Linked DNA regions of Homo sapiens: region 1 is linked to region 2. Evidence: fine-mapped expression QTL. A gene starts in region 2. The other region holds a variant in brackets. All regions are shown on one strand. Distances are between the middles of the regions. Region 1 overlaps PLEKHH2 (pleckstrin homology, MyTH4 and FERM domain containing H2). Region 2 holds the start of PLEKHH2 (pleckstrin homology, MyTH4 and FERM domain containing H2).

What was found. PIP is the estimated chance that this variant, and not a neighbour inherited with it, causes the effect.
Region 1: its variant is fine-mapped to the expression of PLEKHH2 in pancreas (GTEx, PIP above 0.99).

What each region holds. Positions count from the first base shown.
Region 1 is chr2:43,704,024-43,713,490 of GRCh38, reverse strand. It overlaps PLEKHH2 (pleckstrin homology, MyTH4 and FERM domain containing H2), which reads right to left. Exons shown (of 30, transcript NM_172069.4): 9 at 9,435-9,467; 10 at 7,075-7,169; 11 at 5,946-6,090; 12 at 3,365-3,501; 13 at 3,161-3,271; 14 at 2,916-3,002; 15 at 1,108-1,266. Among named protein-coding and RNA genes, the nearest start is that of C1GALT1C1L, 32 kb to the right of the region's middle. The variant A/G (reference allele first, on the strand shown) is at 4,905.
Region 2 is chr2:43,632,786-43,642,252 of GRCh38, reverse strand. PLEKHH2 (pleckstrin homology, MyTH4 and FERM domain containing H2) reads right to left here and starts at 4,993. Exons shown (of 30, transcript NM_172069.4): 1 at 4,874-4,993. RefSeq lists a silencer at 4,760-5,089.

The DNA.
Region 1 (9,467 bases), 71 kb before region 2:
ACAACATTTAAAAGGCTGCATAGTAAAGCATTATATGGTTGTACAAACATTTTTTAAAGCTATACCTTACCCTACATCTAATTTGATCCCAATTTTTCTTTATTATGAACCATGCTGTGCAAGGAATCTTTCTGGGGTAATGGAAATGTTCTGCATCTTGATAGAGTCAAAAGTAAATAGCTTTCAAAACTAGTCAAACTCTACACTTAAGATCTGTGCATTTCAGATATATTAATCATACCTCATTTTTTAAAATAGGAAAAAAAACATGCTGTGAGGAACATCTCATAATTAAATCTTTTGCAAATTAAGACCACTTCCTAAGGATAAATTTTTAAAACTGAGATTGCTGGATCAAAGGAGATATATATGCGTGTGTGTGTGTGTGTGTTGATTTGATATTGATTTGTTCACTCAAAATTATTGGCTAAGTTAACACTTCAGCCAAGATATTGCCAAACTGCCTTTTAGAGTAATGCTCTCACTAGCAGATTTCTTTTTTTTTCTACTGCCTATGTAATTGCAGAAACTAGCAGATTTTTTAATCTGTGTCAATACTAGGTTTCAAAATTTGTAAAAACGTCTTACTTTTCACCAGATTTTAAAAAGTGCCACCTCTTATTTCAATCTGTGCTTTTAAAAAAATTGAGTGACAGTAAAATGTTTTTCCATATGCTTATTGATCATTTGTATTCCTTCTAACCTCGATGATCTCTCTTTCCTGCCCATTGAGTCTTTTGTTCCTTTTCCCCCAATTGGTGTTCATTGTTTGCTTACTGATTAGAAAAAAACGTGTTAAATATTAATGATATTAACCAGTTTTCACATGTTTCAAATACCTCTTCAAAGTTTTTCAATCCTTCTTTTAAAAATTCTGCTCGTAGAATTTTTAATAGAGCCTTTACATTTTTACATATTATAGTCAAATTTGTCTTCTTTTCATCTTTATAGTTTTTGCCTTGGGCATCATACTTAAAAACACCCTTTCCTATCCCCAAGATCATATCAATATTCAATATATGTATATGCTCTGACATCCCATTTTCAGCGATCATGGGCTCATGCCCATAGCTGCCTGGGACATTGCTATGCACAGGAGGTTCCTACCTTAGTGAGCAATCCCTTCATGGTGGGTTTGCCCTCAGGCTGCAGGGAAAGTGGGTTGGCAGCTTGTACTCGAAGAACATTCTGTAACACTTTAATCCACTCTTCCAATATATTGGGAGAATCTGCAGTCAGATAGTATGTGTGTTTTTCAGTGGTCAACTAGAATGCAACGAGAAAGGTATAGGAAAGAAAACTGTGAAGATTTAGGATTGTTAGCATTTCCTTGTTCATTATTCAAACGTCATTACTTAACACAGAAGCAAACATGCTAAATCTCAAGTCCCAGTTTCTAAATAAATGACTCCATATCAGTTAGAATATTTTAACCACTTTGTGAGAATTACAGCAATTAAATTTTTGTGGAAATAACTTTGTTACTCCAGTTTACCTAATTTTGGGGTTATGATTTTATATCTTGTTTATTTGTCACATTTTCCCTTTCTTGCTTAAATGTGTTACAGGTTCCTACTTTTCTTTTTTTTTTTTTTTTGAGACAGAGTCTCTTTCTGTCGCCCAGGCTGGAGTGCAGTGGCGCCATCTTGGCTCACTGCAAGCTCCGCCTCCTGGGTTCACACCATTCTCCTGCCTCGGCCTCCCGAGCAGCTGGGACTTACAGGCACCTGCCACCATGCCCGGATAATTTTTTTTGAATTTTTAGTAGAGACGGGGTTTCACCGTGTTAGCCAGGATGGTCTCGATCTCCTGACCTCATGATCCGCCTGCCTCAGCCTCCTGAAGTGCTGAGATTACAGGCGTGAGCCACCGCGCCCGGCCAGGTTCCTACTTATTGAAATGAGGAGCAGAATGATTAAAGACTATAATAAAATAGCATAGTTTTAGCAACTAAAGAAGAGGTTTCTTAATACAAATGACAAAATCAACTATAAATAAAATAAGAAGATCTTGCATATAAGAAGATAAATTATTGGAACGAACATGTGATTAGATATTATGAACTCAGAATGTTCCAGTCTCAAATTAGCCACACTGCAAATTTTCCAAATTTCAGAAACTTACAAATGATTCTTAACTGCCATGCCCAAAGACAAAGCTTTCCTTGATTCTCCTTTCTAAATTTTTGAGAGGTTTTCAGGTACAAATCACTGGAAACATTGATAATGTACCTTTCTGGCAAAGTTGTCCTCCACCCTCCAAAGGAGCAATATAAGAAAATAATGGTTATTGAAGACATTTCAGAAATAAAGTGTCTGACTTTAAATTACATATACTAGAATATCTCAACAGCCTGTGTTTTAAATTTAACAGATTTCTGGCAAGACTGGCCTTATGTGTGAGTAAAATGGGCAGCAGCTGCCCCTACAGTGTGACTTGCTTGGCAGCACACTCCCTCTGCTCACCAATATATTTCCCACTTTGGTGTTATGGCATCTGAAGTTCATATAAGAACTGTCATTTTCAGATTCTATATTAAAATACAAACATTCCTGAATTTCACAGTACATTATATAACTAACATCTTATTGAGAATTCATTTACCAGATAACCCTTCCTTAAAATAGCTTCACAGTTGGACAGCTGAAAATACCTAGGAGATTAAATATGAGGAAAGAAGAGTATAAAGGAAGAAAGGTAAAGTGTGGTGGGAGTTACTCAACACACACCTAACTTACATTATAGTTTTAACCAAAAATTCGTGGAGTTTCACATACTTCCAAGGCATCAAACTAACCCCCCAAAGTGAATAAAGAAACACTGAATTATCCTATCTCCTTTCCATTAGGTTGGATAATTGAGAATTGAGTCTGGCATGATACAAAAAAAAAAAAAAAAAAAAAAAAGTTAAGTACCTGAACTGTTTGTTTGTTATCTCCTCTTAAAATACTACAGGATGCACTAAGTTCAATATGGCCCTGGGGTTTTCTAATTACATCACTCTGTATGAAACAGAAAAACAAATGGAAAGTGATTAACTTTAACAGTAATAATAAGGAATGCTTTGTATCATTACTTGCATTATGGGAAGGAAATCAATCAGGCGTCTGATTTATAGTTTGAGGAATTACGTTCTAAACAGAAAACACTTTCCACTCACCGGAGATTTGTAGTAAAGTAATTCACCACCTTTAAGAACAAACCACCGCCGCTTCCAAGACTTGACTTTACCACTCATTTTTAATAAATAACCAGATTTTTCCAGTGGTTCCTAATTTTTAAAAGATAGACAAAAGCATTTTCAGTTTCCTTTTGGAGGCTCAATCTGACTGACTGCTTTTTAAAAATCATATTCAATATTTACATTTTTCCCATTATCACTGGAAGATGAGCAAGTTTTTGGGAGCTTCTGCTCTGGCTGTGAGTACTCCGTGTCTGTGGAGTAAGCATCAGGAGGAATAGCATAATCACTTTCAGAAGCCACAGAGGAGAGAGACACACCTAAGAGAACAAAGAAAGAAATCAAGTCAGTATTTAATACTGGGGAGGGCCAAACACCAGCTCTGAGTGCTCCTACAGAATGCAATTATTCCTAAATCATAAGCCTCCCTAGACTAGATTTATTCTCATTCCTTTGGCCATAAATAACTTTTTTTGAGACAGAGTCTCGCTCTGTCACCAGGCTGGAGTGCACTGGCACAATCTCGGCTCACTGCAACCTCTGCCTCCTGGGTTCAAGCGATTCTCCCGCCTCAGCCTCCCGAGTAGCTGGGGCTACAGGTGTGCGCCACCACGCCCAGCTAATTTTTGTATCTTTAGTAGAGATGGGGTTTCATCATGTTGGCCAGGATGGTCTCGATCTCTTGACCTCGTGATCCGCCTGCCTTGGCCTCCCAACATGAAGAACTTTTAAAGCAGAAAACAGAACTAAGAGGTAGGGACTGTCATGTAAATCTCTAAGGAAGTGAAAGGAACAGGAATAATATTTTGGTATGATTACAATCACACAGCTATTTTACATATATAAAATATATGCAAGAGTCTACTCATGTATATTTTATTAAGAATTAAAAATATGTGTATTTACACATTGACATATAGGCAAACAAATGTTGAACCTTAATTTATCAAGATTTTCACAATCACATTTTAAATTTCTTAACTTCTGTAATCACTTTTAAAGTAACCTCACATTTTAAAAAAACACAATTCAGTAGTATTTTTTCATTCAAGTTCCATAAGCTACTAAGCAGTTTACAGATTTTAAAAATATTTCATAAAAGAGAAACAATAAGATTGAAAGATATAAACAAACTATTTCTTTCACTTGCCAGCAGCTATAACATAAAATTCAATGGAACATTTATACAATGATTCATTTGCCTTTACAGAAAACTACCTGGGAGTTGCAAGCCACATTTCATGAGTCACTACAATTGGAGATTTAGAATATATTAAATAAAATCAAGGACTTAGGTAATTATTTATAAAAGTATCCAGCAATTTTTAAAAATATGTATTAACATTTAAGGGACATATTAGAACAATGCCACTCTTGTGACACTGCTTTTTATTTGACTCAGACAAGTAACAGTTGCTATAATATCTTCATTTTTCATAGAATAAACAAAAATGTAGACCTATAGGGACCTCAGTGATTGTCATGGCTAAGGCCCAAGGAGACTAAGGCCCAGAGATTAAAGGATTTGTCCAAAGTCAAAGAGTTAGGCAGGGGCAATGTTGGAACACAAGTCTCAGGCTCCCAGGACCAGGGCCAGTGTGCCAGGCACTGTCCTAGATGCTAGGGATAGAGCAAACAACAAAAATATTGGCTCTCGTGGAACAAATTCTAGCGGAAGGAGACCACTGACAAACAGGCAGTAGGTGGTATGGAACAATAAAAC[A/G]TAGAGCAGACTAAAGGGAATAAAAAGAGCTGGCAACAGAAGAAAGACAAAGGGCTGCAATTTGAGTGGTGTGGTCAGGGTGGACCTCATTGAGAAAGCAGCGTTTGCTGATGGAGGTGAGGGAGTCAGCTATACGGACATCTAGGGGAAGAATACCAGCTGGAGGAAACAGCAGTGCCAAGGTCCTGAAATGCAAGCATGCCTGGCATGTCTCAGAACAGCAAGAGGGCCAGTGAGACTGGAGCTGAGTACAGAGAAGAAAGGAGATGAGGTCAAGTACGTGACCGAATCCTGGAACACCTTATAGCCGTTGTGAGGAGCCACTGCAGTGTTTCCAGCAAAAGTGTGTCATAACCTGATTCTGGCTGTAGCGGGGCAAGTTGAGAGCAAGAAGACCAGTGGAAGCTCAAAATATGAAACCAAGGAAGGCTGAGCAGCTCCAGTTGAAGCCGAGGGGATTGGAAGTATCCAGAGGTTCCATGGAACACAGTTTGAAAGCCAACAGACACACCATGCTGCATTAAGGGCTTTTTATAACATACAGATGTCATTTGGTGGAATTAGATCTCTCTGTAACCACTACCTACACACAGAATGTCTTCAAAATCCACTAAAAATCATAGACATATTCCAAGTAAATGTTGTTCTCCACTTTAACATCAGATTAATTGACAAATTTTAAGGTATATTTTCTGCCAGTTAGCAGTGTAACAACTTTAGCTGAAATAAGTCTATTTCACAAATGCCAAGAAAGAAACCTCATTTTGGCCAATTATCTCACTTCATTCCAACAATAAAGTGATCTCCCTCTCACAGACAATAAAAAGCTGAAAAAAAAAAACTATATAATTTGTCTGAAATCACAGAGAATTAAGAAGAGAATTAGGAATATAAACATATCAGTCATAGGCTAAAGTTCTTTTCACTAGGGTCTGAAGCAAGTTCTTGGATTTAAAAAATAATCCTGTAATGGAGATAAAATTCCCAATTAATATTCAGAATGATCTGGAGTTGCCTCATATGCCTGCGATTTTCCCTCACCTCGTTTCATGGCTCTGGGGCTGCCTGGCCCACTCCTACTGCGTGAGTCTGACTCTGACGTCCGGGAGCTGGATCTGGAGCTGTCTTCTTCCTCTGACCCAGATGAGTCATCCAGGAAAGGGCTGCTACTTATTTGGGTCGCCTTCTAAAGAAAAGTGGAACAACCTCCCTGTATCCATCCCTAATGTTACCACTCATCCAAGAAAAGGCTGCTAGTTATTAGGGTCGCCTCCTAAAGAAAAGCAGAGCAACCTCCCTGTATCCATCCCTAAGGTTATCACTCTTTTTAGATAACAGAAAGTTTTACAGGAAGAAGTCATAGCATAGAATTTTTTTTTTTTTTTTTTTTGAGGTGGAGTCTTGCTCTTGTCACCCAGGCTGGAGTGCAATGACATGATCTCGGTTCACTGCAACCTCCGCCTCCCAGGTTCAAGCGATTCTCCTGACTCAGCCTCCTGAGTAGCTGGGATTACAGGCACCTGCCACCACGCCCGGCTAATTTTTATATTTTTAGTAGAGACAGGGTTTCGCCATGTTGGCCAGGCTGGTCTCGAACTCCTGACCTCGTGATCCGCCCGCCTCGGCCTCCCAAAGTGCTGGGATTACAGGCGTGAGCCACCGTGCCCAGCCAGCATATGATTTTTAAAAGGAATTTGGGAATGTATTTTGCTGTTATCAAAATCATGTTGTTAAACCCTGAATTCTAATAAGCAATTATAAAAGATGCCTGAAAATATAAGGTTGTCAATACCTGCAATCCTTCTTTTAATTAATACTTCAAGCAAGGAAGGGGTACCCTGGCACTGATACAAAGATCTGCCTAAATTAGGAGTTTTCATTACATTATTAATAATATGTCTCCTTTAAACAATTCATGGCCATGGGGAGGTGGGGGAATCACATGGGACACAGTAAAAACTGACTCAGACCTCTAACATTCTGATAAGTGTCTTCTGCAGACCTTTCCATTCCTTCTTTTTTATGATATGTTAACGTGAACTTGTAAAACTTTCTATAAAGGGAGAGCCTGTGTAAAATGTTAAGAATGGAATCTGGAGCTTGAATTAACAATTTCCTTGATCCATCATGAAGAGAAGCACATGTTTTAACAATAACAATAATGAGTTACCCCCTTCAAAGTTGTATACACTGGGGTGGTCATGTTCTTGTATATCAGAGATGTATAAAGTCCTGATGTAGTATAGGAAAGGGTTGCAGCAGAATCTGAAACAGAAAAACAGGAAACAACATTTTAAAAAACTTCTAATTAGCACATTGGTCTTTTTCTTATGAATACAAATGAGCATAATCTCCATTTAAAAAGCAATTCGATTAATACATGATTACTAACTGTATAGTCTACTTTACAGATTATGGCATTTACAGGTTTATTTATACACTTTTTTACATGGTTCATTATTTCCTCATGTGTGCTAGTTCCCCAACTAGACTGCAAGCTCTTTGAGAGCAAGAACCATAGCTTTTATTTCCTTGAAATCTCCATGCATGCTTTGCTCAGGCTGGGCAGAACTAAGTACAGGCAACTGCTTACCAACCAATTCAGTAAGCAGTACATAGGAAGATATTCTCTGACTATTCATAACCCTATTACCAGCATGGTATCAAAACCACTGTTCTGGTGGGGCATGGTGGTTCCCATCTGTAATCCCAGGACTTTGGGAGGCTGAGGCAGTGGATCGCTTGAGCCCAGGAGTTTGAGACCAACCTGGGCAACATGGCAAAACCCTTTCTCTACTAAAACCAAACATGGTGGCATACACCTGTAATCTCAGTTACTTGGGAGGCTGAGGCACAAGAATTGCTTGAACCTGGGAAGGGGAGGTTGCAGTGAGCCGAGATCATGCCACTGCACTACAGCCTGGGCGACAGAGCAAGACTTGTTCTCAAACAAAAACCAAAACCAAAACCACTGTTCTTAAGCCTTTATCAGGTAAATCTGATGTTGAAATATTGGAATGTAATTTCCTAGCTAAGTGTAGTGGCTCACACCTGTAATCCTAGCACCTTGAGAAGCTGAGGCAGGAGGATTGCTTAAGGCCAGGAGTTTGAGACCAGTCTGGGCAACACAGTGAGACCCCCATCTCCACAAAAAATCTTAAAAAGTATCAAGGCATGGTGGTATGCACCTGTCATCCTAACTAATCAGGAGGCTGAGGCAGGAGGATCGCTTGAGCCCAGGAGTTCAAGGCGGTAGTGAGCTATGATCACACCACTCCACTCCCACCTGGGTGACAGAGTAAGACGCTGCCTCAAAAAAAAAAAAAAAAAAAAAAGGATAAAATTTCCTGAATGGAAAGAACTGCAGATAGCTGAACAGGAACTGAATATCAATAGTTACCCCTAACATATGAATTAGTGGTGGGATAGGGAGGAGGTGGTAGAAAGAACCACAGGAAAATTTCTTGTTATTCCAGACAGTTCTTGTTGTTTGGTTTTATTTTTTGTAATGAGCATGCATTGTTTCCATAAGAATTTTTTGGAAGAAATAAAGAAAGGGGAAATGTGTTTTAAATTCTGGGAAAAAAGGACATAGAAGCCTATATTTTTACCATTTTAAACAGCTGAAATGCCACAGTTTCTCTGATTTAGTCTCTCTCAGGTAAAAAAATATACATCAGAGTTGAGTGTATTTGAGTCCCCACACTAAGATGAATTTCAATTTTAAAATACAAATCAGCAACCCTAGAAATCATTTTTTGAAAGTTTACACAACTCTTTATTCCAATGAATTTAGACATTTAGGAAGTTCTTAGCGAATGAAATAGCAATGCAAATCACTTTTCTAAACTTTTTTTATTGTGGGAAAAAACACAGAACATAAAATTTACCATCTTAATCTTTTTTTTTTTTTTTTTTTTTTTTAAGACAGAATCTTGCTCTGTCACCCAGGCTGGAGTGCAGTGGCACAATCTCAGCTCACTGAAAGCTCCACCTCCTCGGTTCACGCCATCCTCCTGCCTCAACCTCCCGAGTAGCTGGGGCTATGGGCGCCCGCCACCACGCCCGGCTAATTTTTTTTGTATTTTTAGTAGAGATGGGGTTTCAACGTGTTAGCCAGGATGGTCTTGATCTCCTGACTTCGTGATCTGTCTGCCTCAGCCTCCCAAAGTGCTGGGATAACAGGCGCGAGCCACCGTGCCCGGCCCATCTTAATCATTTTTAATTGTACAGTTCAGTAATGTTAAGTGTATTCACACTGTTGTAAAACAGACCTCTAGAACTTTTTCATTTTGCAAATCTGAAATGCTATACCCAGTAAACAATAAATTCGCTTCTCCACGCACACCCTGACCCTGGTAACCGCCATTCTACTTTCTATTCCTATGAATTTGACCCTTTAAACACCTCCTTTAGGTGGAATCATACAGTATTTGTCTTTTTGTGACTGTACCATGTATTTGTATTATACTATCCCTTAGCACAAAGTCCTCAAGGTTCATCCAGGTGGCAGCATGAAAAAGCACTTACTTTTATTAACACTCTCCATATTGAAGGCCTCAG
Region 2 (9,467 bases):
AAATATTCCATTTACAATAGCATCAAAACTAATAAAATATTTAGGAATGAATTTAACAAAAGAAGTGCAAAATGTGTGCACTGAAAACTACAAAACATCACTGAAAGAAATTTAAAAATACCTAAATAAATGGAAGAAATTGTATATTCATGGATTAGAAGACTTAATATTGTGAAGATGGCAATACTTGCAAATGGCTATATACACACAATGCAATCTCTATCAAAGTTGCAACTGCATTTTTTGCAGAAATTGACAAGCTGATCAAACTTTGCCTGGAAATTCAAGGGCTGAAGAATAGACAAAATAAAATTGAAAAGTTGGAGGACTCACATGTTACTATTTCTAAACTTACTACAAAGCTATACAGTAGCTTGATTACACAGTGTGGTACTTGCATAAAGATAGATATATAGATAAACAGAATAAAGTTAAGTCCAGAATTAAAGCCTCACATTGATTTTTGGCAAGAGTGATAAGATCATCCAATGGGGGAAAGAATAGTCTTTTCAACAGATGATGCTGGGACAACTGGATATCCATATGTAAAAGAATGAATGTGGACCCATACCTCATACCATATATACACAGTAACACAAAATGGATCACAAACTTACAGGTACCAGCCAAAGCTCTAAACCAGGGGTGTCCAATCTTTTGACTTCCTTGGGCCACGTTAGAAGAAGAATTGTCTTGAGCCACACATAAAATACACTAACACTAAAGGTAGCTGATGAGCTAAAAAAAAAAATTGCAAAACAAATCTCATAATGCTTTAAGAAAGTTTACAAATTTGTTTTGGGCCACATTCAAAGCCATCCTGGGCTGCCTGTGGCCTGCAGGCCACAGGTTGGACACGCTTGCTCTAAACTCTTAGAAGAAAAGAGGTATAAATCTTCATGACCTTGGATTAGGCAACAGATTCTTAGATATGACACCTAAAGCACAAGGAATCGAAGAAAAAATAGATAAATTGGACTTCATAAAAATTTTTAAATTTTTGTCCTTCAAAGGACACTATCAAGAAAGTGCAAAGATAACCCACAGAATGGGAAAAATAGTTGCAAATCATGTATCTCAGGGATTTGTGTCTAGAATATATAAAGGACTCTTAGGACTCAACGATAAAAAAAGATAACCCAATTAAACAATGGGCAAAGGCCTGGACGTGGTGGCTCATGCTTATAATCCCAGCACTCTGGGAGGCCGAGGCGGTTAGACTGCCTGAGCTCATGAGTTTGAGACCAGCCTGGGCAAGGTGGCAAAACCCTGTCTTTATTAAAAAAAAAAAAAAAAAAAAAATTAGCCAGGCATGGTGGTGCAGGCCTGTAGTCCCAGCTACTTGGGGGTTGAGGCAGGAAGATCACTTGAGCCCAGGAGGTCGAAGCTGCAGTGAACCATGTTCACACCACTGCACTCCAGCCTGGGCGACAGAGGGAGACCCCGATCTTTAAAAACAATAATAATAATAAATTAAAAATAAATAAATAAAAATGGGCAAAGTATCTGAATAGAGATTTATCCAAAGAAGATATACAAATGGCCAATAAGCACATTATTTGCTATGAGAGAAAATGCAAATCAAAGTCACAACAACATTCCACTTCACATCAAATAGGATGTTCTAATGAAAAAGACATCTAACAACAAGTGTTGGTGAGGATGTAGAGAAATGGGAACCCTCATACATTGTTGGTGGGAATGTAAAAATGGTACAGCTGCTTTGTAAACAGTTTTACAGTTCCTGAAAAGTTTAAACAGGCCAGCATGGTGGCTCACGCCTGTAATCCCAACAGTTTGAGAGGCTGAGGTTGGAGAATTCATCTCTGAGGTCAGGAGTTCAAGACCAGACTGTGCAACATAGCAAGACCTCATCTCTATCAAAAAATTTAAAAATCAGCTAAGCGTCGGGGAGCTTACCTGTGGTCCCAGCTACTCGGGAGCCCTGTGTGGGAGGATCACTTGAGCAGTGAGCTATGATCATACACTGCACTCCAGCCTGGGTGACAAGAGTGAGACACCGTCTCAAAAAAAAAAAAAAGTTTAAATATAAAGTTACCAAGTTATTGGAGTAACTTTATATTTGGTATATCAATATAAAGTATTGGTAACTTTATACTTGGCATTGGAGTTGCTGGGTCATATGCCAAGGGATGGGGTCATATGCCAAGGGATGAAATACACATCCACACCAAAACTTGTAAATAAATGTTCAGAGCAACATTATTCATGATAGCCAAAGAGTAGAAACAGCCTGTGTCCACCATCAGATGAATGAATAAAATGTAGTAGATCTGGCTGGGTGCAGTGGCTCACTCCTGTAATCCCAGCACTTTGTAGGGCAAAAGCAGGTGGATCATCTGAGGTCAGGAGTTCAAGACAAGCCTGGCCAACATGGCAAAACCCCGTCTCTACTAAAAATACAAAAATTAGCCAGGCATGGTGGTGCAGGCCTATAATTCCAGCTACTAGGGAGGCTGAGACAGGAGAATTGCTTTAACCCAGGAGGCAGAAGTTGCAGTGAGCTGAGATCCTGCCATTGCACTCCAGCCTGGGTGACAGAGTGAGACTCTGTCTCAAAAAAAAAAAAAAAAAAAAAAAAGTGGTACATCCATACAATGGAATATTATTCGGCCATAAAAAAGGAATACAGTACTAATACACGCTATAGTCATGGAAGAGCCTTGAAAACATTATGCTAAGTGAAAGATGCCAGACACAAAAGGCCACATATTGTATGAGTCCATTTACATGAAATGTCCATAAGAGGCAAATCCAAAGGACAGAAAGTAGGTTAGTGGTTGCCAAGGGCTGTGAGGAGAAGGTAGCAGATACTGACTACAATGGATAGGGGGTTTCTTTTTGGGGTGATGAAAATATTCTAGAATTAGATATTGGTGATGGCTATACAACCTTGTGAATATACCAAAACCCAGTGAACTGTATACTTTAAAAGGAAAAATCTTATAGTTTGTGACTTATATTAAGATCTCAATAAAAAAGATCACATATTTACAAATGACTAAAGAAAAAGTCGCAGTTTAAATGGATGTATACTAGGACTGCATTTACAAATTTAATCAACCATTATTTGTGGTTATCCCTGCCAAGAATTTCACAATTAGCTCAAAAAATTGAGAGGTAACTGTTAACCCCAAATATGAAAAGTATCATACATATATCTTACCTAGCGCACTTTGCTATGATGACATAATAAATTAATTCAAAGTCAAACATACCTATTTCTTTAGTTATGCTAATTATATATTTTATAGTGAAGTAGCAAAGCCTTAAGAATATTATTAAATTGGCATTTAACATCTACATTCCCTATTAATGGGTCATAATAAATCAGAACTGCAAATTGGTTGGATAATGGTCTGCACTGAGATCCAGACACCTGATTCCCTCATTTCATTCTGTAATTTCAGTTAGTTAACAAGTACAAAGCAACTGTTGTATTAGTGCACCATCTTGGGTAGTTAAAAATTCTAATTTTAAACAATATCCGCCATCCTTTTCATTACCACTAATGTTATAGAACTATATAACATTGGGAATATATATATAACTATATAACATAGCCGACTGCTAAATAAAGAAAATACCACATATAGATTCTGAATTTGAAAGGAATCTATCATGTCTAGATTCTGCATTTGAAAATAATCTATCTTCACTTCAGGGGACAGGAAAAAGTCTTGGAGTTCCAAATACCCCCAGTGATTTTTGGAAGTATTTACTGACATAAGATAAACTGTTTACAATTGTGGAGTGAATGCTCTTTTCTCTGAATCTCTGACTTCCTGTTTCTCTTCCAAATCCCAAAAAGGAAAGAAAAAGAAATGAAAGAATTATTCTACTTAGGCTTACCCTGATGAAGCGCAGCGTTAGTCTCTATGATATTCTTTAGTTTTTGCCTCTTAAGGGACAGCTTAACTGGGCTGGGTAATCGTGTGTGTGAGTGTGTGTGTGTGTGTGTGTGTGTGTGTGTGTGTGTGTGTTAAAAGATCTTTCTCGACGAGACTGAGGCATGCCTTGTTTAAGGAACCTTCTGACCACCACCTAGCCACCTAGCCCCACTTGGGCAACGCCTGCCCTTCGGTGACCCTGCCCAGAACAGCCGAGCTCCTCACTACATACTCCTCTGGGACACACCGCTGTGCGGGCCAGGCTTCCAAGACTGGCATTTTCACAAAGAAAGCAGTGACCCTCAGGTAGCCCACCACCAGAGCTTTTCCAATGTAAGTGGTTCGACTTCTATTTCCACAGCGTTACGCACAACAATATCGACGGGTAAAAAGTGTTGTCCTTTAAAAAGTGCCCCACTAACTTCGGGGACAGTGGTTTCCGGGTAGGTCACCTTAGGGTGCTTTGACGTGCCAGCAACTCGAGGTGTACAAAATGCTTCTTTAAAGTTTTGAGTTTAAAGTTTCGCCCCGGAGATCCTGGTGGATCTCCCGAAGCCTAAGGCGAGCGCGGCATCCCTGACCGCGCGGGTCCCTCGGCTCGGGGACCCTGGGCTGCCCCGCTGCGCCCCCGGGACCGCTCGCGCCGCGCCAGAAGCCCGGGCCCAGTGTTTCCAAACAGAACGTCACGGGAGCCCACGGGCGCGAGGGACCGCCGGCCACCGCCCCCTGCCCACCTCTCCCGGCGACATCCAGACTTGGGGGCCGACTCTGGGCTGTGGCGGGAGGTGCAGCGGCGGATCCCGAGTCAGCCCGCTCCGTCCCTCTCGTCCCCGCCTTCCCGCTCCTCCCGGCGCCCCAAACCTCGGCCCCGCGAGCCCCCCTGGACGGGGCGCCCTCAAGGGGGCGGGGATCCCAGGGTGGCAGGAACTCTGGAGTGGCCCCTCGTCCCCGGGCTTTCTCACCTGTCTATCTCAGCAGCGGGTCCCCGGCCGCAGCGCCCGATGTCCCGGCCGCGACTGGCCCCCGGGATCCCCGGACTCTCAGCCCGCGCCCGCCTCAAGCCGAGCTCGGAGAGGGCGGGGAAGGGCACCGCCTCCTCCAGGGACTGGCAGCCGGTGTAGCCAATGGGAGACCACAGCCGACCACCGGGCGTCACCGGGGGTGTGGCTATAACTTTGGCTCCTCCCAGTCCCTGCCCCAGGAGGGAGCTCTGTCCTGGAGTGGTACCCCTAACGTCCCAACTGCGAGACTCCAGAGCTTGCTGCAGCGGCCGGTCACCTTCATTCCACTCCGTCTGCCTGGACTGTTGCAGCACCCTCCCTTGGTCTCCCAGTCTGAAGTCTCTCCTCTTGCCAATCCACCCTTCATCTTCCTGCCAGGTTAATTTCCTTAAGAGCAGTTTTGATGAACAGTGTGCCAAAGACTTTCATTGGCTTCCGTTTGCTTAAATTATCAAGAACAGATTCCCTAGTCTAGTGTTCAAGGTCTCCATCCCGTCTTTTCAGGTTTATTTCTCACAGCTGCCCTTCACACACCTGAGACTACTGCTGTGCACCTCGCCACCCGAAGGAAGTGGCACTAGGAGCGTTTACATGCTATTTCCTGTCTCCACTTCAAAAAGCTCAGAATAATCTTCTCACCGGGCGCAGTGGCTCACGCCTGTAATCCCAGTACTTTGGGGGACCGAGGCAGGTGGATCACTTGAGGCCAGGAGTTCGAGACGAGCCTGGGCAACATGGTGAAACCCTGTCTCTACCAAAAAAAAAAAAAAAATATATATATATATATATATATATACACACAAAAAAAAAAAATTAGCTGGGCTTGGTGGCGCTCACTTGTAGTCCCAGCTACTCAGGAGGCTAAGGCTGGAGGATTGCTTAAACACAGGAGATGGAGGCTGCAGTGAGCCGCGATCATGCCACTGCACTGGATCCTGGGCGACTGGGCGAGATCCTGTCTCAAATCATCATCATTATCATCATCATCATCATCATCATCTTCTCCATGTAACTATGTCTGTCGCTCCACCTGGCAGAAATGTCGTCTCTGGGCCGGGCGCAGTGGCTCATGCCTGTAATTCCAGCACTTTGGGAGGCCGAGGAGGGCAGATCACGAGGTCAAGAGATCGAGACCATCCTGGCCAACATGGTGAAACCTGGTCTGTACTAAAAATACAAAAATTAGCTGGGCGTGGTGGTGCACGACTGTAGTCCCAGCTACTCGGGAGGCTGAGGCAGGAGAATCGCTTGAACCTGGGAAGCGGAGGTTGCAGTGAGCCAAGATAGCACCACTGCACTCTAGCCTGCCTACAGAGCAAGACTCCATCTGAGACAAAAAAAAAAAAAAAGGTCTTCTCTGGTTTCTGCTCCCTGAACATCTAGATTTTTGCCTCTCTTGGGGCTTAGCTCCCTCTGCCTTATGCACAGCTCCTCACATCTCTTTTAGACTGTGAGCACTTTGAAAACAAGGATTTGTGGTTTTTTTTTTTTTTTTGCATTCTCCTCAGCACAGAGCATATTGCATAAGTAAATTAGTGATAATTTAAATCCAGGTGAATTTTACATCCCAACTTAGGGTCTGGAGAGGTCAATCTCAGGGTAAAATAAAGAGAATTCTGAATGTTATGGATAATCGTTCCCCAGGTCACAAAGCTAGGTCAGACAGATTATTCTCTTTGGTTCACAGTTGGCCAATAGAGAGTATCAGAAAAACTTTTTCTACTACAATCTTTTTTTTTTTAACTTTATCTCATCTTATATAAAACACACACACACACACACACACACACACACACACACACACACACACACAGAGGATGGGCACAGTGGCTCATGCCTGTAATCCCAGCATTTTGGGAGACCAAGGCGGGCAGATGACTTGAGGTCAGGAGTTTGAGACCATCCTGGCCAACATATCGAAACCCCATCTCTACTAAAAATACAAAAATTAGCTGAACATGGTGGCATACGCCTGTAATCCCAGCTATTCAGGAGGCTGAGACAGGAGAATCGCTTGAGCCAGGAAGGCAGCAGTTGCAGTGAGCTGAGATCGCACCACTGCACTCCAGATTGGGTGACAGAGCAAGACTCTGTCTCAAAAAAAAGGAAAGAAAAAACCACAAAAGAGATAAAGATTTTCAAAGTTTCTCAGAGGAAAAGCAATAAGTGAATACAACTAAAAGTCCAGTAAGCAAGTATCAGGCTTTCATATTTCTTCCAGATGAGCATTAATTTTGAACAGGATCCCAGACTACCCCCACACATCAAATTCCTTTTGCCTTCTGTGGGAGCTGATGATGCATATCATATGAAAAATTGTCTTCAAACAGCTTTGGCAAACAAGCAGACTGGACTGGGCTTATTTTATAGAGCACGCAGGAGTTAAACAAACAGAGTTTCAGTAACTTGCATAATTTAACACAGCAAGTCAGTAGAGACCAAGCAGGAGAAAGAGAGAAAGAATGCCAAAATAGAATCACTTCCGTTTGTGAGTCAGAAATACTAATTAGACTAAAAGAACTGAGTGAATAAAGTCACTCATGAAAAGCCGCTTTGTAAACACGGCTGCCACCCTTGTAAGGCTTAGCCAATATTTACTTACTGTCACCTTTTTCTAGAAACATGACAAACTGAATTTGTCTGGGTATGGAGAATACAGCGGAACAGCATCCTATCTTTGTCTATGCTGAGAAAAACACATGGTACAATGGAATATTATTCAGTGGTAAAAAGAAATAAAGTACTGATACATGCTACAACATTGATAAACCTTGAAAACATTATACTTAATGAAAGAAGCCAGTCATTTAAAAGGCACATACTGTAGGATCCCATTTACATGAAATGTTCAGAACAGGCAAATCCATAGAGACATAAGTGGATTGGTGGTTGCTTAGGGCTGGGAAGGATCGGGGTGATGGCTAAGACAAGTGAGGTTTATTTTTGCGATAATAAAAACATTTATGGTGATGATTACACAACTTTGAACATACAAAAAGCCATGGACATACGCAATTTAAATGGATAAACTGGATGTTATTGAATTATATCTCAATAAAGATGTTTTAAAAAAGAAAAACATGTTGAATTTTGTGTTTTTACGTTAGGTAGCAGGGATAGAAAATGTTAGTAGCAATAGGCACCTTTGTTTTATAAGCATTAATCTAAATTGTGATATTATGTTTATTTGTGATTATTTTGTCTGTTTTCCCCCCCACAAGACTGTAAGTGCCAGAAAAGTAGAACAACTGTTTTTGCTCTTTAATGTATATCCAGTATCTAGCAAAAATCATAAGTCAAACCACCGTAAATCAGGAACTGTTTATACATCTCAACTTCTTTCAAGAAATTGAACCTACAAGGTCTAACAGCTGATTAGAAGGCGGATTAGAAGGGAGGCTTTGTGTCTGCATTATCAGGAAATGATGGTGCCATTTACAAAAGTAAGGAAGCAAGGAGAGGGAACAAGAAGAATGAGATCTGGCTTGGAGGTACTGAGCACAACTTGAGGTGCGAGTGAAATATCCAGGAGAGAGCCAAGAGAAAATCAGTCAGGCTGAGCTGGGGAGAAGGTTTGAATTTGGGTGTACATTTCAACGTATACTTCTGCATAGGGGGAGATTACTGTAAATTGTAGAATGATTGCTGGCCATGTGGCCATTTGGCACATTGGGAGCAAGGACAGAGGGGTTGAAGGGAAAAGAGGTACGGAGCTGGGTAAATATCAGGGAATAAGTATCTGATCCTTTAATCCACCACACATAAAATCCAAAAAGAAAGAAGGAGGGCGGAGACACTATCTCCACTAGAATAAGCTTGTGGCTTCTGGCACGGAGAAAGTATAAACCCCAGCACCTGGGAAAAGATATCAAAGACAAGGGGAAGATTTGGAAAAATGAATAGAGCTAGCAGGAACAGCTCTCTCTAGCTGAGGAGGGTACAGGTCTGGGCACTCCAGGCTGTTTACCTGCAACCTAGGAGACCAGAAAAGCCTTGGCATGAAGGAGGCCCTACAAACAAGGAGACAGACAAGCATCCTGGCCCTCCCAGTGGGGGTGGACCAGGAAAACAGTTTCTTTGATGTGTCCCCAGTGTCCAGAGCATACTGGCTTGCTCAGTCCTTTGGGTCTGCAACGAAGGCAGGATTTGCTTCAATCTCACCTCCCCAGGTGAGCTGGGCCCCCACTATCACAGATTGGTTGGGGGTAGCATAGGTGGTGCCAGAACTGGTGAAGGTGAGAGACTAATGGGCATTGCTAAGGTCATGAAAAGAAAACAAGTGTGTACAGAAGCATAACAAAAGCACAGAGGTGGGTACTTTGAGCACCACTTATTTTAAGGCAACTGAAAAGAGGAAAAGAATTGTTGAACCAGACTGAGGGAGAGCCAGTAATAGTTTGTTCAGGACCCATGAAGTTAAAAAAAAGAAAAAAAGACACTGGACATTAAAATCACACAGGAAAGCTGGGCAGGGTGGCTCACGCTTGTAATCCCAGAACTTTGGGAGGCCAAGGAGGGCGGATCACGAGGTCAGGAGTTCAAGACCAGCCTGGCC